Linked DNA regions of Homo sapiens. The protein of the gene in region 2 purifies or fractionates together with the protein of the main gene of each other region. This does not show direct contact. Each region holds a gene or a part of one and is shown on either strand. Other genes may lie near its edges.

The links. Proteins that work in one complex are often made in the same cells at the same time.
Region 1: the proteins of CORO1A (region 2) and POC1A purify together in Homo sapiens (affinity purification with mass spectrometry; 5 studies listed by BioGRID and IntAct, with this or other methods). This does not show direct contact.
Region 3: the proteins of CORO1A (region 2) and IFT57 purify together in Homo sapiens (affinity purification with mass spectrometry; 5 studies listed by BioGRID and IntAct, with this or other methods). This does not show direct contact.

The regions. Positions count from the first base shown.
Region 1 is NC_000003.12:52,143,278-52,151,423, reverse strand, and holds part of POC1A (POC1 centriolar protein homolog A), read left to right. Parts: intron 1-252; exon of another isoform or gene 253-323; coding exon 324-408; intron 409-1,436; coding exon 1,437-1,608; intron 1,609-2,034; coding exon 2,035-2,214; intron 2,215-4,328; coding exon 4,329-4,436; intron 4,437-5,462; coding exon 5,463-5,578; intron 5,579-8,146.
Region 2 is NC_000016.10:30,185,494-30,190,760, reverse strand, and holds the end of CORO1A (coronin-1A), read right to left. Parts: intron 4,164-5,267; coding exon 4,041-4,163; intron 3,946-4,040; coding exon 3,816-3,945; intron 3,723-3,815; coding exon 3,538-3,722; intron 3,380-3,537; coding exon 3,260-3,379; intron 3,037-3,259; coding exon 2,932-3,036; intron 2,820-2,931; coding exon 2,674-2,819; intron 2,570-2,673; coding exon 2,512-2,569; intron 2,401-2,511; coding exon 2,185-2,400; intron 1,902-2,184; coding exon 1,797-1,901; 3' UTR 1,685-1,796; downstream 1-1,684. UniProt on the Homo sapiens protein: May be a crucial component of the cytoskeleton of highly motile cells, functioning both in the invagination of large pieces of plasma membrane, as well as in forming protrusions of the plasma membrane involved in cell locomotion.
Region 3 is NC_000003.12:108,211,279-108,219,424, forward strand, and holds part of IFT57 (intraflagellar transport protein 57 homolog), read right to left. Parts: coding exon 8,132-8,146; intron 7,376-8,131; coding exon 7,257-7,375; intron 2,744-7,256; coding exon 2,653-2,743; intron 1-2,652. UniProt on the Homo sapiens protein: Required for the formation of cilia. Plays an indirect role in sonic hedgehog signaling, cilia being required for all activity of the hedgehog pathway.

The DNA of each region.
Region 1 (8,146 bases), on a different chromosome or scaffold from region 2:
TTTTATTTTTTGGATTATTCATTGCTAGTGTACAGAAAGACAATTGATTTTTGTGTCTTGATTTTGTATCTTGCAACTTTGCTGAACTCATTTGTTTTTTGTTTTTGTTGAAGCATTTCCACAGTTGATGTATTAATTCAAATAGTAAAAACTATTCCTAGTAAAAACTAATCCTAAGTGGATTCCTTAGGATTTTCTTTATATAAGATCATGCCTTGAGCATTTTTAACCCTACTCCCCCGGCTGTTGTAGGAAGAGTGCTGGCCCTGGGGAAGCCCCTTCCTCACCCAGGCTTCACACATTTGACCCTGGCTCTCTCTCAGGAGGACCCCTCGCTGGAAAGGCATTTTAAGGGCCACCGAGATGCAGTTACCTGTGTGGACTTCAGTATCAACACAAAGCAGCTGGGTAAGAAGAGGCACCCTGTCTAGGTGCTAGGTTATGAGCTGAACAGGCCAAGTTTTTACCTCGGAGGGGTGGTGGGTGGGAAGCAGAGCACAAGGACTGCACAGCTTTGTCTAGACCTGCTTCTAGTCTTGCTTCTGCTTGCCAGCTCTTTGGGCACTGGGCTTCATGAGCTTCATTTTACATGCAGAGCCTGAGGGTCAGAGAGGTTAGGGGCCTTGCTAAGGCCACAGAGCTTTTGAGGGTGGGACTGGGATCTGGGTCTTTTCTGCACACCCTAGCCACCTTTTGGGTCTGTCTTTTGGTGTGGGCCCTAAACAGTGACTCCTTTTCCTTGAAGCTTTACTGATTCTGTTGCCCACAGTAATAAGGCACACCTTGTTGAAGAGCCTTGTCAGTGAGAAGGCTGTTGAGCAGAGATGGGCACCCCCCTCGACCCCACTGCTCTTATGCTGCAGCTGACTGTCCCCCTTCCTTGGTTGCATGAGGTTTCGTACACAGCTTTTATGACTGCGCTTTCTGGTTCCTGCAGAGGAGGCTTGCCCCTTCATCCTGTCATCAAGACCCTCTGATGTGTAAAGGTTAAGAGGGAACTGAAGTGATTTTTGATCAGTTTTGGGGACCTCCTTTAGGCTTCATACTGAGTTGGGCCCTCTCAATGGGAGGGGCTGGCTTCCCAGCTGGGGAGGACTTGCTCTCTGGTGCCCTCAGGATGTGTCTGGGGGGAGACCCTGGGCCCCATGGGAATGAGTTTTCCCAGAGCTCTGGATTGCAGTCCAAGGCTAGCATGGGAAGGGCCTCGGTCTTATTCCCATGTGGGTGTGCTCCTTGGAGAACTCTGGGCCACAGGCTCTCCACCTCCAGACCATACCTCGAGATGTGCTCTGCTCCATGGGAGACTTCTCACGGTCTGTTTGTGGATGCCAGGGAAGATGGAGCTGGGCCAGTTGCTCCCCCTGCCTCTCCAATGTCTTGGTGGAGGCTTGAAGCCTGTTAGAGCTGTAGGTCATAGCATCACCCACTGTCCTCAGCCAGTGGCTCCATGGACTCATGCCTCATGGTCTGGCACATGAAGCCGCAGTCACGCGCCTACCGCTTCACTGGCCACAAGGATGCCGTCACCTGTGTGAACTTCTCTCCTTCGGGACACCTGCTTGCTTCCGGCTCCCGAGACAAGACTGTCCGCATCTGGGTACCCAATGTGTGAGTCGTACACTTTGAGGAGGCTTGTTGGAGTCTGGGGCCCTGGTGCCAGAGCCATCCCCACCCAGGTCCCCTAGCTTGGCTCTGGACTGGTCACAGTGGGACTTCTACTCTGCTTTGGAAGAGGTGCCATCAGAGGCTGGGGCTGCAGTTGGAGCCCTCCCCTCAGGGTTGGAAGAGGAGTTCTGGGCTTACCCAATCTATCCCTAAAGAAATGCCACCTGATGCTGTGTTCATGTGGGTGGGGCCTAGAGATGGTGCTCTGTTCATATAGGAGAGGCTCTGGCTTTCCCTTGTGGAGACTGGGGTACTCGGGCTTGACTGACTTTGGGAGGGGTGCTTGAGGAGTAGGAGAGCTTTGATGTGCTTGTGGGCTCTCATGTCACTGTTATGGGTTTCCTTACTCTTGGATGCCTGTCCTTGTAGCAAAGGTGAGTCCACTGTGTTTCGTGCACACACAGCCACAGTGAGGAGTGTCCACTTCTGCAGTGATGGCCAGTCCTTCGTGACAGCCTCTGACGACAAGACAGTCAAAGTGTGGGCAACTCATCGCCAGAAATTCCTGTTCTCCCTGAGCCAGCATATCAACTGGGTCCGCTGTGCCAAGTGAGCATTGTTCTGTCTGGAGACCCTTGGAGGAACCCTGGGGGTTGGGGGCTGGCCCAGGGGCTGCTAGGTACCAACTTATGACCTCGGGCAAGTTACTTAGGCATTGTTTAAGCTTCCTCAGCCTCGGTTTCCTTATCTGTAAAATGGAACAATAATAGCTCCTGCATTGTAAGTTGTCGAGAAGCTTCATGGAGCTGATGCATGACATGTAAGTTAGTCCATAGTCAGCCATGATGACCCTCTGACATCTGTGTTGGCAAAGCACAAACTGGGTCAACAGGGGCCATTTATTATCAAAAACAATTAGGTACTTTCAGTACTACCATTACACATTTTCTTTTTGTTCCTTAAGACAGTTCTGCAAGCTAGGTGCATTTCCATTTTGCAGATGAGGAAATGGGGGCTCAGAACAGTAGTATCTTGTCCCAGAGCACACGGTGGGTCTGTGGCAGAGCTGGAGTTTGAACCCAACTCTCTCTGACAGTAAGGCTTGCCTACTTTCCTCTGGGATGTTCTCAGGGGATGATTTTGCTCCAGAGCTCCCAGATGGGGGCGCAGGCTTCGGAGATGGGGGGCTTAGCCTGGAGGCTAGCCTTCCTGCTGGCCAGGGAGCCAGTGCTGTGCAGACAGCGGGCCAGGTAACCCAAAGGACCTTTCAAGGTCCAAGAATTGCAGACAGATAGTCCTACTTCTAGCTTATTTCATTCCTTTCAACAGAGCTTCCCCATGGGTCAAATATCTTTGCTTCAGAGGAAGGGGTTGGGGTGCCAGGTGACATTAGGAAACCACATGAGTCAGAAGTTGGGGACTATTGAGCTGTGTTCTTCTGGGGACCCCATACAAGTTACTGTTCTCCAGGGCACCCCCATTCCTTTGTCCTGGGAGACCCCTGATGGCTCTTAGAGGCTTTATGACTAGGGTCCTGAGATCAGGAGGGGCCAGGCCAGCAAACTGGGGTGTCAAGTCCATACTGGGCCTTTGGTGGCAGTCCCCAGGACCTCATGCCTTTTGTTGGCAGATTGTGTCTTGCTGACCCGCACTTGAGTCAAATGTAGACTCGGAGGACCTGGTCCCAGAGTAATGACACTGATGGTGAGCTTTTGGCCACCTTTATGCAAATGTTGCCGGCAGGCAGTCGGCTGCATGTTGCCATGTGCTGTGCGTCAGGGGCAGTGCTGGGGCTTTATGTGCATGAGGCTGCTCTGTGCTCACTCGTGAGGCAGGCACCTTTTTTTTTTTCTTTTCTTTTTGTTTATTTATGTTTGGTTTTCCTCTAAGTCAGGAAGAATTTCTCTTTTTCCCTTTTGGTCAGAGTTTGCTGTTGGGATGGGAGAGGGGCTATTTGCTCATGAAGCTACGTAAGAAAACGAAAACAAGAGCAACAGGAAAGATCAATAAGTTTCACAGATTCAGGAAGAAAAAAATAAAGGAAACATTTTTATAACATTTAAAATTAAGTCATAGGCCGAGCTTGAAGGTGCATGTCTGTAATCCTAGCACTTTGGGTGGATGAGGTGGGAGGATCCTTTGACTCCAGGAGTTAGAGGACCAGCCTGGGCAACATAGTGAGACTCCCATCTCTACAATAAAATAAAATAAAATAAAATTAGCTGGGTGTGGTGGTGCACGCCTGTAGTCCCAGCTGCTCAGGAGGCTTAGGTGGGAGGATCTCTTGAGCCCAGGAGGTAGAGGCTGCAGTGAGCTGAGATCACACCACTGCACTCCAGCCTGGGTGACAGAGCAATACCCTGTCTAAAAAACAAAACAAAAACAAAAACAAAATTTAGTCACAGTTTCCTGAAAAACTCTTCAGAAGGAAAAAAGAAAAATGATGTGCTAAAAGTTAACTATTTTCAGAAACAAAGTATAATTTAAGATATGACCAAATAAACAGAAGTAACATTGCCTCCTAGGATGCAATGCATTTGTTCCTGAAAAGACAAATTAGGGTATTCAAATTAAAAAAAAAAAAATCACAGCAGGGCATGTGACCCCGGGTGGTTCCTGCAGGCAGATAGTAGGCACTCGGGGAAGAGTGGCTGTGGAAGAAGGTGTGTGGTGCCCATGTCGTCTGTTAGTCTGTGATGTGACTTGTGCCCCACCCGGTTCAGGTTCTCCCCCGACGGGCGGCTCATCGTGTCTGCCAGTGATGACAAGACTGTTAAGCTGTGGGACAAGAGCAGCCGGGAATGTGTCCACTCGTATTGTGAGCATGGCGGGTGAGTCCCCAGATGCTGTCCTCCACCTGTAGGCGCTCAAGCACAGAGCACAGACCTGGGCATGAGGAGGCCCAGTGGCCTTCAGTGGCTGGAGCCGTGGGACCAGCAGCCTTATCACTGCTGCCCCTTGTCTGGTGCTTTTTGCGAGGTCTGGCAACCTAGCATTGTATCTTTTGCTGTGTGGATGGAAGCTTTGGCCCCATCCCACAAATAGCAGGAGTGCTTAACCTCAAGCCATGCAATTCTTTGGAGCTGTGTAATTATTTGTGCTCCTCTTTTTCTCCTTCACTTTCTGGTTGTCAGGATTACAACATGTCTGTCTGGCAGCAGTTGACACTCAGTCGCCCAAACTACATTTTAAAGCCTCTTGGTATGTTATCCATGATGATGGCTTTACAAAATTCTTGTTGGGTTCTTGTAGCAGATGGTGGCTGTTCATATTGTGCCACATCATCAGGAGAGAGAGGTGCCTACATTTGAGTAGAGACCCCAGCTTCTGCCCTTCTTTGTTGGGCTGGGAGCCACAAGGGCTTCTCCTTGAGAGGTGGACATGGTACCAGCCTGGGTATCACATATGGGTGTGGTGAGGGTCCTTGGCCTGTCTCCTAGAAAGGGGTGGGCCAATGGCCCTGTAGTCCTGCTGGACCTTCCCACCTGTGCCTCAGCTGGCAGGATCTGCCCTGCAGCCACCCCTGGGAAGGGTACCAGCTCCAACTTTGAAAATCCCAGGGGAGCCTGGCTAACTTTTGGGTTTGAAGATAGCTCTCTCAACTTGTATTGAAAATTGGCGGTGGGATGTGCTCCCTGGTCAGTCCACCTTAGTTTGTTGCTGGCCACTGTTCTCACCTTTTACTTCTTCTTGCTCTCCCTTGGCCACCTGGTAAACAAGTGTGACAGAAAGGAGGTGTCTGGGTCAAGGGAACAGCGTGGGCAGGACACAGGGATGGGGAAAGCACCAAATGTTTCTGGGTCCGTCCTGAACCAGGGCAGACCTCCTATAGTGCATAGTGGCCCCTGTCTTTCCAGCTTTGTCACCTATGTGGACTTCCACCCCAGTGGGACGTGCATTGCCGCTGCCGGCATGGACAACACAGTGAAGGTGTGGGACGTGCGGACTCACCGGCTGCTGCAGCATTATCAGTGTGAGTGGTGAACAGCCTCCTGGGCCCAAGGGCAGCCCTGGTGGGACTGTGATGGTGTTGGATGTTGTCCTGTGCTGTAGTGCTTAAATGGGTCTGAGATGGCCTTGGGCAGGAAGGTGTCCTGGGTTTGTTGGGATTCCAGGGGTGGGAGTCTGTGGCATGGCTGGCCTGGCTTGGAACCTTGGCCAGGAGATGGAGCCTGGTGCTACCTGGCTTCCACTGAGCCAGTCAATGCTCACCTCCGAAGTGGCAGAATCTCACACATACTGCAGGGCCAGATGGGGAGTCCTCACTGGGGCTCTGGTCAGGGCTTCCCTTGAGGACCACTTCTCAGGGGCATGCCACTTGCCTTTCCTGGTGATGGAGGCTCTGCCCTCCAGGGCCAAGGTGACAGCCCTTGACCTGTGGTAAAGGGAACAGGGCTGTCAGTAGAGGCCAGCATTGGTGGGACCGTGGCCACCTCTGGTCTTACAGTGTCCTCCGCAGATGTAGAGTCATAGGGAGGGTTGACTTAGCTAGGGGCCAGGCCCAGGATGGTAGCCCTTGGAAGGCAGGGTGGCGGGCAGTGGGCATGGGCTCATGTCAGGCTCCAGGTGGGAGTTGGAGGGCGAGGGCAGACTTAGACATGCCCAGGATGAGTTCGCTGAGAGTACTGGGTAGGGAACTGGCCTGAGAGCAAGTATGAGTGGGCAGGGCCATGAGGCGCCCCAGTTCCAGGGATGGGCTCAGGGAAGGGAGCTGGTGAGGGGTCATTGGAGAAACTGGGAATTGTGTAGCTGGCAAAACAGAGATGAGCAAGACTGGACCAGGGCCGAGACCAGGAAGGAGGCAGAGCTGGAGTTGTTTGAAGAACCGTGGTTGTTAACCTGGGACTAAGCTTAAAGTTCTTGGGCTCGCTTCCTTAAGCCACACCTGAAATGGGAAGGACATGGCTGGACACAGGTGTGGGGTTCCGACCCCACCCACCCCTGACACACACACACCCTTCCTAGCTGACTCCTGGTGTTCAAGTACAGCACTTTCTTTGGGGTAACAGAGGTGAGCACACCTTCCCAGAATGGGGAGAAGATCCTAATCTTGAACAGCACATGGTGGAGAGTGGGCTCTGCAGCTGGCTTTTAAAGCATTCCTGGCTGTGTGATATTGGGCAGGTCATTTGACTCTGTGGGGCCTCTGGGACAATGATGGGGCCTGTCTCACAGGAGGTGTTGGGAGGTTTAATGAGTTGTTTCATATCAAGAATTGAGAGGGTGGCTGGCACAAAATGGGGGGAAGGAGGTACAATGTTAGTGATGATGACAATGACACTGTCTTGGTCCTGTCTGGGCTGGTGAGGCCAACCTGGTTGGTTAAGGCCTGTAGTACCCTACAGCACCACCAGGTGGCAGGGGCCAGCCACAAGAACCTGTTCCCCCACCCCACCCCCCTCCATAGGAAGCCCTGAGGTTTGTTACCAATGCTCTTTCAGACAGAGGCTTCTGGAACAGAAGAGCAGTGGGGCTTGCCTCCACTTGGAGCCCATATCTTTCCTATCCTTCCTTCAGCCTTCTGCTCTGGGCCAGGCCTGAGTGAAGGGCTGGGGCTTGGGGATGGGGCACATCTGCCCAGCTGCCTGGGGAACGTGGGCAGGTGCAGAGGAGGGAGGACTTGGACAGGGAGAGATGGGAGTGGAAGGCGACGAGGCAGGACAGTGGTCAGGAGCACATGCTGTGGTTCCTTTCTGTAAAGGGGGTGGCAATAGGCCTTCCTCATGGCTTTGTGAGGCTCTGATGGGAAAAGCCACAAAAGGGTTATAACACAGGGCTAGGTATGTGGTTTGTGCTACATAAGTCCTGACACTGGGCAGAGAGGATGTCTAGGTGACCCTGGGAGGGTCCAGACCCATCTCTGATGGATCAGGAGCCTGGGCCTGGTGTTCATGGGTATAACAGCAGGTACCCCTTGGGAAGGGCCTTGGATGCCATCTCTGGCTCGGGGTCCCAAAGATGTGGCCTGATTGGCAGTGCTAGGACTAGCCTCGTCATTTAAGGTATGAAGGGAAGAAGGACATCTGAGAGGATAGCGGTGTCCAGAGCCTGCTGGGGTTGGGGGCTGGTGTGCCCCATGTGTCCCAGTGATGGGTAGGTGTCCAGCTGTGCCTGGTATCAAAGTAGGGGCTGGCATCAGAGTGGGGGATGGGTTGCAGAGGTTGAGTAGAAGCAGAGAAGCTGACCCTGTTGGGGTGGAGGGGCCAGCTGGACCCAGGGATCTGGGATGTGAGAATGGCTGAGGTCACATTCTGAGCCCCTATAATTGAGGGGCCACAGAAGATAAAGGTCCACAAAGCAGCCAGAGTGAGAGGTATGAACCCCGTCTCCAAGCATGGGAGAGCTGAGGAGGGCAGAGGCTGGGGAGTGAAGGAGAGTGGGGTCTTGTGAAGAGGGTTGTCAGGAGGTGGAGCAATGCAGAGCAGCCGAGGAGAGCGGTGGGTACTGGGGAGAGGGAGCTGGGGACCTGGAGGGAGCAGGCTTGGCAGAGGGCAGGGGCGGATCTCCATGATGGCAGGGTTGGGGAGGTGTGGATGGACTC
Region 2 (5,267 bases):
TGAGGCACGAGAATGGCTTGAACCCAGAAGGCAGAGGTTGCGGTGAGCCGAGATTGTGCCATTGTACTCAATTTGGGCAACAAGAATGAAACTCCATCTCAGAAAAAATTAAATAAATAAAAAAGTGGGGAGACTTGGACTCTGACTTGGGATCTGCCCTTCAGTGAGCTGGGCTCCTGCTCCCGGCCTCAGTTTCTTCTCTGGTAAACTAGGATCAGCCTGTTGCCTTAATTCTGTCTTTTCCTTAGAAGAAGTTCCCCTGTTTCATATATTAAAATATATAATATATAAAACATATATATAAAATATATATAATTTATATTATAATATATAATATAATATAATATAATATAATATATATTATAATATATATTATATATTATACTATATTATTATATAGTATAATATATAACTTATTACTATATAATATAATATATAATTTATTATTATATAATATAATATATATTATATATTAAAATATATAATTAATATATATAATATTTATATATTAAAATATAATATATATAATATTTATATATTAAAATATATTATATATAATATATTTATATATTAAAATATATAATATATATAATATATTTATATATTAAAATATATATGATGTATTTATACATTTAAAAAATATATATATATATATATATATATATTTTTTTTTTTTTTTGAGACGAAGTCTCACTCCTGTCCCCCAGGCTGGAGTACAATGGCATGATCTCGGCTCACTGCAACCTTTGCCTCCCGGATTCAAGCAATTCTCTTGCCTCAGCCTCCTGAGTAGCTGAGATTACAGGCGCCTGCCACCATGCCCAGCTAATTTTTGTATTTTTAGTAGAGATGGGGTTTCACCATGTTGGCCAGGCTGGTCTCGAACTTCTGACCTCAGGTGATTCACCCACCTCGGCCTCCTAAAGTGCTGGGATTACAGGCGTGAGCTGCCACACCCGGCCTATTTATATTTTTTAGAGACAGTGTCTTGCTCTGTCACCCAGGCTGCAGTGCAGTGGTGCAATGGCTCATTGCAGCCTCGACCTCCTGGGCTCAAGGGATCCTCCTGCCTCAGCCTCCTGAGTAGCTGGAACTATAGGTGCCCACCACCATGCCTGGCTAATTTTTTATTTTATTTTTCGTAGAGACGGTATCTCGCCGTGTTGCTCAGGCAGGTCTCAAACTCCTGGGCTCAAATGATCCTGCCGCCTCAGCCTCCCACAGTGCTGGGATTATAGACGTGAGTCCCCATGCCCAGCCTCCCTCGTTATTTTTATCTTTGGACCTGCAGTTTAAAAGATGCCTACCCTGTAAGTGATGGTTGGTTCATTTCCTCACAAGCAACAGTGCCAGCAGAGTCACGTGCAACGTGATGTTTTGGTTGACTAGGAAAGGCAGATTTTTGGTAAATTTGGGAATTATTGAGGTTCTAAGCTAGGGCCTTAAATAGTTCAGCTGTGTCAGCTCTGAGAAGGAGCTCGGAAACGGAGAGCAGCCTCCTGGCCCACATCAGCATGGCTGGTTTCTACCCACGAAGGCCCTGTTCCTGTGATGTAGTAAGTCAGGGGGCATCCCACATCCCCTGCCATGGGTCAGTCCCCTCAGCGCGGTGGAGGGGAAGCTCTAGGGCTGGTTGGTTCAGCAAACTGCGTGTCTAGGGGACCAGTCATCAGAGTCTGGGAGGTACCAGAAAATAAAGCCATTTTATTATGATTTTTTTCTCTGCCATGTGGCTGGGAATGGGAGGTGAGTGGATGGGTGTGAATGGCTGACCCTGCTGGAGGCCCTGCGGGGCTCTACTTGGCCTGGACTGTCTCCTCCAGCCTGTCCAAGCGCTTCTGGAGCTCCTGCACCGTGGCCTGGAGCTTCCGCATCTCCTCCTCCAGCCGAGACACGGCATCCTGGGGACCCGGTGCTGCATTAGGCCCAGCTCCTCCCTGGCTCCCCTTACCCCAGCCTCTGCTGAGCCCCATCCCTAGAGCCCTGGCCTTGGGCCCTTTAGTCGCTCAGCTGGTTGCTGCCTGGAGACCTGCAGGCCTATCAATCTGAAACCTGTGTTCTGAGGCCTCAGGATTACCATTCCCGGACCCACAAAGATTCCCAATGTTGTGAGTTTGAGGTGCCCCAAACACCAGCCCCACCCCACCCTCCCAGTTTTATTCCCTGGCTTCCCAGCCCTCTCACCGAGCTGGGAGTGCCACTGGCCTCTGGTGCTGCCCTCCTGCGCCCGGTGTCCAGGCCCCGGTTGACCCTCAGCTCCCGGCTCTTTGGGGGTACGTAGCCATCCTTGAGGGAGATGAGGAGGGGCCCAGCATCCCGACCCCCCAGCCACTCCTCAGCCGTGAGGGCAGGGTCGGGCCCTGCGGTGGGTGGGTACAGGTCCTCCTGGAACAGGTCCGACTGTGGGCAAGGCCAGGGATAGTGAGGAAAGCGCTTATGCCAGGACACCCCCCACAAGACCGCAAAGTCAGTGCCCAGCCTGGAGCCCAGGGTGGGGCGGGGGAGCATCACCTTTCGAGGCACTGTCATGGCAATGGGCTCACACCTCCGCTCGTGCAGCTTGTAGAACCTGTGGGAAGGGGAAGGTGAGCGGGGCCCACAGTCTGGTTGGGTGGGCTTGGGACTGCCCACTGCCCAAGGAGCATGCTGCGGTCAGGGCCGGGGGTCAGTCACCTGGCGATCTCACACTTGTTCACCTCCAGGCCACGTTTGGGCATGTAGCCCATGCCCCGCTGGGACTCCTTGGAACTGAACATGGAGAGATAGTGCAGGAAAGGGGCCTCGGAAGTGATCTCAAAGTACCGGATTGAGCTGTCACCCTGTAGGTGGCAGGTGTGGAGGGAGGGTCAATACCAGCGGATGCCCACTGCCCTGGCCCTCTCCAGGCCCATCCTGCCCACCTCCCACCCCCACCCCGCCCGACGAGGCCACCTTGCCACAGAGGTAGACGATGTTGGTGTCAGGGTCAAAGAAGGGCAGCAGGACACCGCTGCTGGTGTCCAGCTCCTGCAGGGACAGCGGCTCCTCCAGGTGCTTCTGTAGACACAGGTGAGAGGTAACATCCCAGGCCCTGGGATGGTGGTCTTCCCTGGGCAGTGACCTGTGAGGGCCCTCCCGACCAACCAGTGGGAACAACCATCTCACGCCTGGGTAAACTGAGGCCCATGGCCATCCTGCCAGGTGAGTGGCAGAGCAGGGACGAAACCTCCAGTCTTGGTTCCCAGCCTGGGGGCCCTCGGCTTCCTGCCCCAGCACTCACTGTGTCCCACAGCGCCACCTGCCGCTCACTCATGCGGCTGAAGCCCGTGGTCAGGATCTTCCCCTCCGACACGAACACTGCACGCACGGGCCGGGTCCCCTCGTGGGGACGGTCCTTCTCCTGCAAGGAAAGGGAGGTGGTAGGTCAGGCACCCGTACATACCCTACGGGGCCAGTCCCAGGTGGAGGCGAGGGAGGGCAGCATCCAAGGGCCTGGCTGATGGTGGATAAGAAGGATAAAGGCTGTAGGGTCAAAGGTCAGGGTAGATGGCGACTCACAGCTACGACAGTGCCTTTGCGGGGCTCGATGATGCGCACGCGCTTGTCACGGCAGGAGGTACAAATGAGGCCTCCATCTCGGCTCCAGTCCACACTGTAGATCGTGTCTGGGTGCACCTCTGGGCCCAGTGTCAGCATGGCCGCCCCAGTGCCCACGTCCCACACCATGATCACGTTGTCACAACCTGCACGTTCCCCACAGTGTCAGAAGCCATGAGCCTCCTGCCCTCATCCACTGCAGGCCACGAGCCACCCCCAAGCCCCTCCTCCCGCAGCACCTGCACTGAGCAGCACGTTCTGGGCTGTGGTGTGCCAGGCCACAATGCCCACACGCTTGGTGTGGCCCTCCAGGGTGACGACGGGCTCCCGCAGGGGCAGCATCAGGCCCCCATCTGGGATCTCCCACACCTGCAGAGGAGGGGCCAGTGAGTCTTCAGGACTCCAAATGTCAGATCCCATCCTAGAGCCCCTCTCCCAGCCCCTGGGTCCCCACCACCACTCACCATGACTGTGCAGTCCTCGGAGCCACTGGCAATGACGTTGTCATTGTGCGGGCACCAGGCGATGTCTAGCACAGGGGCTGTGTGGCCACAGACCGTGGGCGCATTCTTGTCCACACGTCCAGTCTAAAGGCACAGCAGGGCCTTGGAGGTGCTTTTGCCTCCCAAACCCAATCCAACCTCCCCACACCTCCTTCAGAGAGGCCCAGAGAGGAAAGCTGTGGTGTCCCTGGGAGCTGGACCAGGGCCTGGGGTGGGGACGGGGGCGGGTTGTTCTTCTCTTGTTCCAGTCCCAAAATGGCCTGGGCAAACCCCAGGAGGGCTGGCCACGCATGGCAGAGGTTGGGGGCCGTGCAAGACCCTGGCAGAGTTCCCGCCGGTCTCTGTCTCAGTCTGTCTCTGCCCTTAGGGTTGGCACCCCCACCCCAGCTTCCCCGAGTGAGGCTTCCATGGGCACAACTGGCCCTGGAGCCAGGACAGGTGTATGGGGGCTGGGGGGGTGGAGGCAGCTCCCCAGAGAGCGAGTGTGAGTGGTGGGGCTGCAGGGGTGGGTCCTCCCAAAAGGAGAGGGGCCAGGGAGCCTGTCCCAACTGGCCCCAGGCAGGAGCAGAGGTTTGGAAATGGCTTCTTCCGGGGACAGCTGCTTCAGCAGGGCTTCCTGTGTGACAGCCATGTGGGGCGCGGGCCCAGCTCTCACCCCGACAACCACTTCCTCTTCTCTTTGCTTCCATCAGCCCTTTTAAGGTAACAACTTGGGGCCCATCTCCCCTTCCTGTCTTACCCCCCAAAGAGCACAGGAGTGTGCTGGGGGTGCGGGGCAGCAGCCAGCCAGCGGAGGGGGCAGCAGGCTCCAGGGGAGGGCAGGGCTGCGGGTGGGGGAGAGCACCTCTTGCATCATCCCTGCCTGCGAGCTGGGGGACAGAGTTGCTAGGTCCTCAGACAGGCCCAGAGCCAGAGTCCCTCCCAACCCTGAGAACGCTGCCAGGGCCCCCAGACCCCATCCCAACCCCCTCTGTGTTTCCATGGGGAGAAAGCCCCAGGCTGAGGCTCAGGAGGGCTGATCATGGGTCTGCAGGACTGTCTGTAGTCCTGGTCACTGGTGTGACCCATCTTGTGTTGGCTCCTTCTGAGCGTCAGTTTCCACACAGCCACAGCACAGAGGAGCTGGAGGAAGTGTAAGGCTCATGGGGCCCAGCTCAGTTTTCCAGATGGCAACACAGGCCCTGGAAG
Region 3 (8,146 bases), on a different chromosome or scaffold from region 2:
AAATAGTTATTAAGACGACAAGATGAGGGAATAAATAAGGTGAACAACTAGGAATATATGAGTACTTAATTTCTGAGCTTGAACGGAAAGATCTGTTACACAAAGAATAAAGCCTAAACTACTTTTCATGCCCAAAACAATCTGAACTTGGTCTATCTTCCCAGTTAATCTTATGCCACCCTCCCCCTCACTTAGGAGCTCTGGCCCCAGTAGTTTTCTCTAAGTTCCTTGATCATGCTAAGTTTCTTTCTGCCTTCAAAGCTTTGGCACATGCTACACAGTCAGGGCCTTGGCCACTGCCTGCTACATAACAAGTGCTCAATAAGTATATGCAGAATGAATGAATATATCTTTGTCTTGACCTTTAAAATCCATCACATTAAAAAACATCTTTTAAACTGATAAGTTTTACAATGGTCTTTTTCCTTCTGTAAATGACAGTCATCTTTTTTTACATATATTAAATAATGTTTATTTACATTGCTGTTAAAAATACATGTTGAAAACCTTAAAAATACAAAGCATAGAAAACAATCATCCATAATTCTCCTACCCATAATTAATGCTAATATATTTATTTTTAACGTATTTTACATAGTTAATGTTATATCAACATAAAATTTGGAATCATCTCAGTTAATTTTATAGCATATAGTATAAGTTACATTCCCATGTCAGTAACTTTGTATTTTTCTTTGTAAACTTTGTAAACATTTTTTGTAGAGACAGGGTCTTGCTCTGTCACCCAGGCTGTAGTGGAGTGGCATGATCACAGCTTACTGCACTTTCAAACTCTTGGGCTCAAGCGATCTTCCCACCTCAGCCTCCTGAGTAGTTAGGACTACAGGCATGCACCACCATGCCTGGCATTTTTTTCTTTTTTGGTAGAGATGAGGACTCACTATAATGCCCAGGTTGGTCTCAAATTCCTGGCCTGAAGCAATCACCATGCCTGGCATTTTTTTCTTTTTTCCTTTTGGTAGAGATGAGGACTCACTCTATTGCCCAGGTTAGTCTCAAACTCCTGGCCTGAAGCAATCCTCCCACCGCCTCCCGAAGAGCTGGGATTACAGGTATAAGCCAGCATGCCCACCCAACAATTTTCAATGGTGATATAGTTTGGATATATGTCCCCTCCTCTGTCTCTGGTCCTTCTCCCCTCCTCTGCTTCTTCTCTGGCCATGTGAGGTGCCTGCTCCCACTTTGTCTTACCATGATTGTAAGCTTCCTGAGGCCCTCACCAGAAGCAGATGCTGGTGCTACACTTCTTGTATGGTCTGCAAAACTGTGAGCCAAAATAAACTTCTTTTCTTTATAACTTACCCAGCGCCTCAAGTATTCCTTTACAGCAACACAAAATGGACTAATACAAATGGCTATATAATACTCTATTCAGATAGCATCTAATCTATTTAATAGTTATTTTTCAGCATTTGCTATTAAAATTATGCATATACTAACTTAAATACTATACTATACTAACCTCAATGCCAAACTTCAATTACTTACTTATTTTAAACTAATTATCTATTGATTTTAAAAATCACCTAAAAATTTTAATTGGTTTATGACAGCAAAATATAGTTGACCCTTGAACAACACGGGTTTGAACTGCATGGGTCCACTTAAATACAAATTTTCTTTCATTTCTGCCACCCCTGAGACAACAAGACCAACCCTTCCTCTTGCTCTTCTTCCTTAGGCTACTCAATATGAAGACAGGGAAGATACTTTTATGATTATCTACTTCCACTTAATAGTATGTATGTTTTCTCTCCCTTATGGCTTGCTTAGTAACATTTTCTTTTCTCTAGCTTACTTTTAGTGTAAGAATACAGTATATAATACATAGACAAAATATGTGTTAACTCTTTATGTTATTGGTAAGGCTTCAAGTCAACAGTAGGCTATTAGTAAAGTTTTTGGGAGTCCAGAGTTATATGTGGATATTCAACTGTGTGGGGGCCGATGCCCATAACCCCCACATTGCTCAAGGGTCAGCTGTATACTATAAAGTTTGTTTTTTCCCCCAACCATTTCTGCTTCAAATCACAAGCACACTTCCTAAAATACCAGGGTCAATCTAATTCTAGTTCTGAGAATTATCTTGAGAAAAAGTTATTTTGTCTCTGTCATCTTTAGCTGCACACTATGGATGGCATGTAAAACATGTAAAAAGTTGTAGATTCTGCCAAACAACTTAAATAATGTTGATCATTTAAAAGCATTAAAAAATTCCTACTCATCCTAATTGTAGATGAATAAAGGAATTCCTTAGAAATGAATGGTATGCGTATAAAGCAGAATTTATTAATCCTAAATTCTTTTGTTCTGTTTTAAATTCTTTATTAGTCACAGTCTATTTAACATCATGAATGGTTAATAAAGTATTTACTCATATAACTAGTGGTATATATTTCCCTGAACAGTTCAAGAACCTCTGCTAAAATTCAGACCTCAATCATTAGAGAATACAAACATTAACTTAACCAAAGGTCTAAATGATGATACTCAGCACTGTATTTAAAAGCTTTTCTTCTTTAGAAACAATGAAATAAAATATATTCCAGATAATGGAAGTCTGGGGGAAATTAAGAGAATGGGAAGTGGCCGAAAGGTGAAAATGAACAGAAAGTTCAGCTACACACATACCACAAATTCTTCATCCACTTTATTTAATGTTAATTCTGCATCATCTTCTGCAACGCTTTCTTCTTCTAATTCTTCTACTGGGTATATTGGCCTAAAATAATAAGATTAAACATGAGGTGATAATTTTAATATTTAGTAAGACAAAAAAATCATAATGCAAATATCATGTCCTCTATGCCAGGTTTTGTCCTTTTTCATTCCGCTTCCATAATCACTGTTAAATGTTTCATGTATTTTTCCTAAAACTTTCTATGTAAAAAGCAAAAGTGTTTATCTCCAAATTTATAAAAAATGAGATGATACTATGCATGGTGTTATCCAACTTAATGCTTCTCACTAATACACCATATTTAAATACATATGTATTTCTCATTATTTTTTACATACAAGCACTGTATTTCATTGAACAATCAATACCATAATTAATGTAATTGGCAGCCTATGACTGAACATAGAGGTTTCTAATTATTTTGCTGGACAATATTGCAAAGATCATCTTTGTACATTTATCATTACACATACCATTTAGAATAAATTTGTTCAAGTGAAATGGCAGGGTAAACAACTTTGTACAGTATTGTTTTGCTATATACTGCCAAAATTGGCTTCCAAAATGTTACCCTAATTTAGACTCCAAACAATACTGAAGGAGAGTAACTCCATCTCCATATATTCACCAATATGATATATAATACAAACTTTAATTTTAGCCAATCAACCAAGTGAAAAAAAATCTCATTCTTGTTTTAACTGCATTTCTTTAGCATGAAAGTGATTGAATATCTTGTCATATTTTAATTGCTTATTTGCACTTCTTTTTAGGTGAAATGTCTATTTATACCATTTACTTTTTGGCTTTTTGTATATTAAGAAAATTAATGTTTTGCCTAACCTCTCAAAAATTGTTCCCCTAGTGTATTACTTATAATCTTGGCTATTCAAGATTGTTATAGTTCTTCTTAGATAGAGTTGGTAACCTTTTCCTGCACAGACCCTAGCTTTAACATCATATATTAGAGGCTTTCTGTCATACCACAACCTCTATACTCCTCTGGTCTTTTAATACTTCTATAGTTTTACTTTTCATATTTACATCTTTGATCAATCTGAAGTTTATTTTAACATAGGTAATAAGAAGGAGTCCAGCTTTCTTCTTATTTCCAAAATCTAATTAGTGATCCTAACATTAAACTTTGAAAAAAATCATTTATTCATCAAGATTAATGACACATTTCCTATATTAAAAGTACTTAAATGTATTTGGGCTTATTTATGAAAACATATTTTTTTTCCTTTTTTTAATCCAGTAACAAAGCTAGAGAGAAAACTTGTATTAAAAACTTGTACCTGGCTGGGTGTGATGGCTCACATCTATAATCCCAGCACTTTGGGAGGCCAAGGCAGGTGGACTGTCTGAGACCAGGAGTTTGAGACCAGCCTGGGCAACATGGTGAAACCCTGTCTTGACAAAAAAAATAAAAAATTAGCTGGGAGTGGTGGTGTGCACCTGTAGTCCCAGCTATGCGGGAGGCTGAGGTGGGAGGATCGCTTGAGCCCGGCAGGCAGAGGTTCACTCCAGCCTGGGCGACAGAGTGAGACCCTGTCTTAAAAACGAAAACCCATGCCTCAATCATGTTAAAAAAATACAAAAATCAACATTTACTAATATGCAAAATACTATGAACTAAATCAATCATCTTAAATAATAAATTTCCTAATTTTTCATTAATTAGAATTCGAAAATATCTCAAAGGCAATGTTCTTCTAGGATTCATTTTGACATTTAGATATATAAAAAATTCATCTATATGTAACGTCTATCTCATTTACATGTTACAGAGCTGACATATTCTCTAATGTTGACTACTTTTCAGCTCCCTCCTTTTATTCCTCATTTAAACATAGTCCTTATAAGTTATCCAAGTCACAGTCTCTTCAATAAATGGTGCTAAAAAACAAAAAAAGAAAAATAAATAGTACTGGGGAAACTGGATATCCACATGCAAAAGAATGAAACTAGACCCTTACCTCTAACCACTTATAAAAACCAACTCAAAATGGATTAAAGACTTAAATATACAATCTGAAACTGAAACTACTAGAGGAAATGTGGAAGAAAACACTTCATGACATTGGTCTGGGCAAGAATTTTTTGGATAAGACCTCAAAAGCACAGGCAACAAAAGCAAAAATAAACAAATGCGATTACATCAAACTTAAGGAAACAATCAAAAGAGTGAAGAGACAACCCACAGAATGGGAGAAAATATTTGCAAACTACCCATCTGACAAGAACTTAACATCCAGTATGTATAAGAAATTCAAGCAACTCAATAGCAAAACAACAACAAAAAAACTAGTCTAATTTTTAAAATGAGCAAAAGATCTTAATAGACATTTCTCAAAAAATACATAGAAACGGCCAACAGATATATGCAAAAATGCTTGACATCACTAATCATCAGGGAAACGCAAATCAAAACCACGATATCATCTCACCCCAGTTAGAATGGCTATTACCCAACCCCTCGCCCCCCAAAATAACAAAGGCTGCTGAGGATATGGAGAAGGGGTAACCCTTGAACACTATTGGTAGGTATGTAAATTATTAGTACAGACACTATAGCGAACACTATGGAGGTGCCTCAAAAAACTAAAAATAGCACTACTCTATTATCCAACAATCCCACTACTGATGATATATCCAAAAGAAATGTAATCGGTATGTTAGAGATATCTGCACTCCCATGTTTATTGCAGCACTATTCACAATACTCAAGATACGGAATCTGCCTAAGTATCCATCAAAGGTTGAATAGAAAATGTGGTATATTTTCACAGTGGAATACCATTCAACCATAAAAGAGAATGCAATTCTGTCATTTGTAGCAACCTGTATAAGCATGGAGGACACTATGTCAAGTGAAATAAGCCAGGCACAGAAAGACAAATATCATAGAAGTAGAGAGTATAATAGTGGTTACCATAGGATGGGAAGGGTAGGGGGAAGGGAGAATAGGGAGAAGTTGGTCAAAGTGGGTGAGTACAAAGTTACAGTTAGGAGGAATAAGTTCTAGTGTTCAATGCACAGCAGGGTGACTACAGTTCACAATATTATATATTAATTAACAATAATATATATTTGAAAATAGCTCATAGAGATTTGGAATTTTCTTGCCACAATAAAATGATAAACGTTTGAAATGATGAATATGTTAATTTCACTAACTTGATCATTGTATATTGTACACATGTATCGAAACATCACATTGTACTCCAAAATTTGCAGTTATGTGCCAATTAAAACTAAAAAATAAATTATCCAACTTACAATACAGAGGCCAGGAATAAGATGTGTTGAGAAACAAAGGAAGTGCAAAATAGAATAGTGGTTGAGATATTACACCATAGCTTCTGGTGAATTTAGAATATATTAGTCTATTAATTTAGCAGTTTTTTAAAATGCTAAATACAGCAGCACATCTCATAACTTATCTTCTCTTGAAATTTAATAAAGTATTATGGACCATGTAGCCATTCTTTATATTGTACTAAATAATAATGTTTGGATTGAAGCATATGAAATTGCCATTTTTTAGTTTAAAAATAGATGAATATGAGTAATTTCATATGGCTCATCCCAATGATAACCTAATTCAAGGAAGTTATTAAACTTAATAGGGAGATTATATCTAAAAGAATATAATTGAATATACATTAAAATGTTATTAACAGGGAATAATATATATATATGTGTGTGTGTGTATATAATCTTTCTACCGAAGTTAGTTCTAATTAAAAAAAAAAAAACACTGCTTACTCGCATTTTACCTGAATAGTGCCTTCTACATTCTAACCTATTAGTAATCCCAAACTGCAAAGCATAAAATTTATGTTTTCTAATTATAATCTCTATAAATTGAGTTTCCAAATGTTCTATTTCATCTATATGCTCAATATCTATTAAACATCTAAGATACACCAAGCATTATGCTAACAGAGTACTTGTGAAGATTTCATGATTTCTAGCAAGAATGTCAGAATAGTAAAGAACAATTTTATACCATAGGATAAATATAATATAATAATAGAAATAAAGCACTGTCAGGTTGGACACAAAAGCAATGAACAATGTCTAGGAGAGTGTCAGGTAGTTTCTTCAGTATTATTCTTGCCCAGTAACTACTAGCAAAGGAGAAAATCCCACTTAAAGTACTGTATTAATTTCCATTTTTCCTTAAATCTGTAGCTATCAGTTCCCTCTGTGTATATACTATGTTTGTGTGTGTGAACATATGTACAAGAGACTTTAAAAAAAAAGTCCAGTATTTACAAAGATATGTAGTCACAGTTAAACCTTTAATAATTACATATTTGAACAGGAAAACGGCATAATAATATGTAACACATTACTTCAGAATTAGTTTTGAAGACGTGAGACATTCTAATTTTGTCTATACTGGCTTTTCTTAATTATCTGTGGCATTTTCAATTTAGAATAGTCAAAAAGAATAATTCTTTTATGTTCAATTGAACAGCTCTGTACCCTCAGAGGCAAATGCTATGCCCATAAAATTACTATCATCAGGGTGGGTAATTTTTACCTTTTCCAGGTGAAACCAATATATTTCAATGCTTCTTCAGCGAAGCAATCAAGAACATAGCATACATGTTCTCCATAACCTGACTTTAATTTTGAAGGAGGAAAATCTGCAGTTCTTCCCTGAAAAACAAAAGAAAAAACAGGGTATTATTTGTTAGTTATACTCCAAATGTCAAATATTTTAAGCAAAGAACTGCTGAATGGATGTATCACTTTTCTTTCAAATGATTTACAATAACTGTAATTACACTGCTTCATACAAATCCATTTCAAGTCTTTGTAACCCATTGATACATAAAAATACTCAAAGACTTTTATTGTTAAAAGTATCAAATTAAAAAGCAATAACATCATAGCAGCAGAACAAATTATTGATCTTATTAGAGTGAAAAGAAACCAGTAAAACTATTTAAACAACTATGTTTAAGGACAGAGTGATTCACTTGTCAAAAATTAATAACATTTGTGCCAAAAATATCTTACTGCCTGCCCAGGAAAAGTCAGAAATGAAAAAGTACAACTGCTGTCATGGTCTTAAGTACAAGTTCCCTTTCAGAATATGAAGTGTTTTGGCTTTGTAGGATTTTTTTTTAATTATCATTTTTTAGATCAAGAATTAACCACCCCAAAATTTACCTCTCAGATATATCAAGATTTTTTTAAAAAAATATTACTTTGGACTAATAAAGAGTATATACTGAACATTTTCAGAAGTGACATTAACATTATAATGTAAACTATTTTAAGGAGGTTTTACCTAAAAATAAATTCATATTTACAGAGGAGTCATCTAAATGGCTAGCATTTGTTATTAAATTACCAGTATTAAAATTCATAACTTGAGAACAAGGAAAAAGAAGGGTCGTTTACACTTACAAATGACCGAAGCTC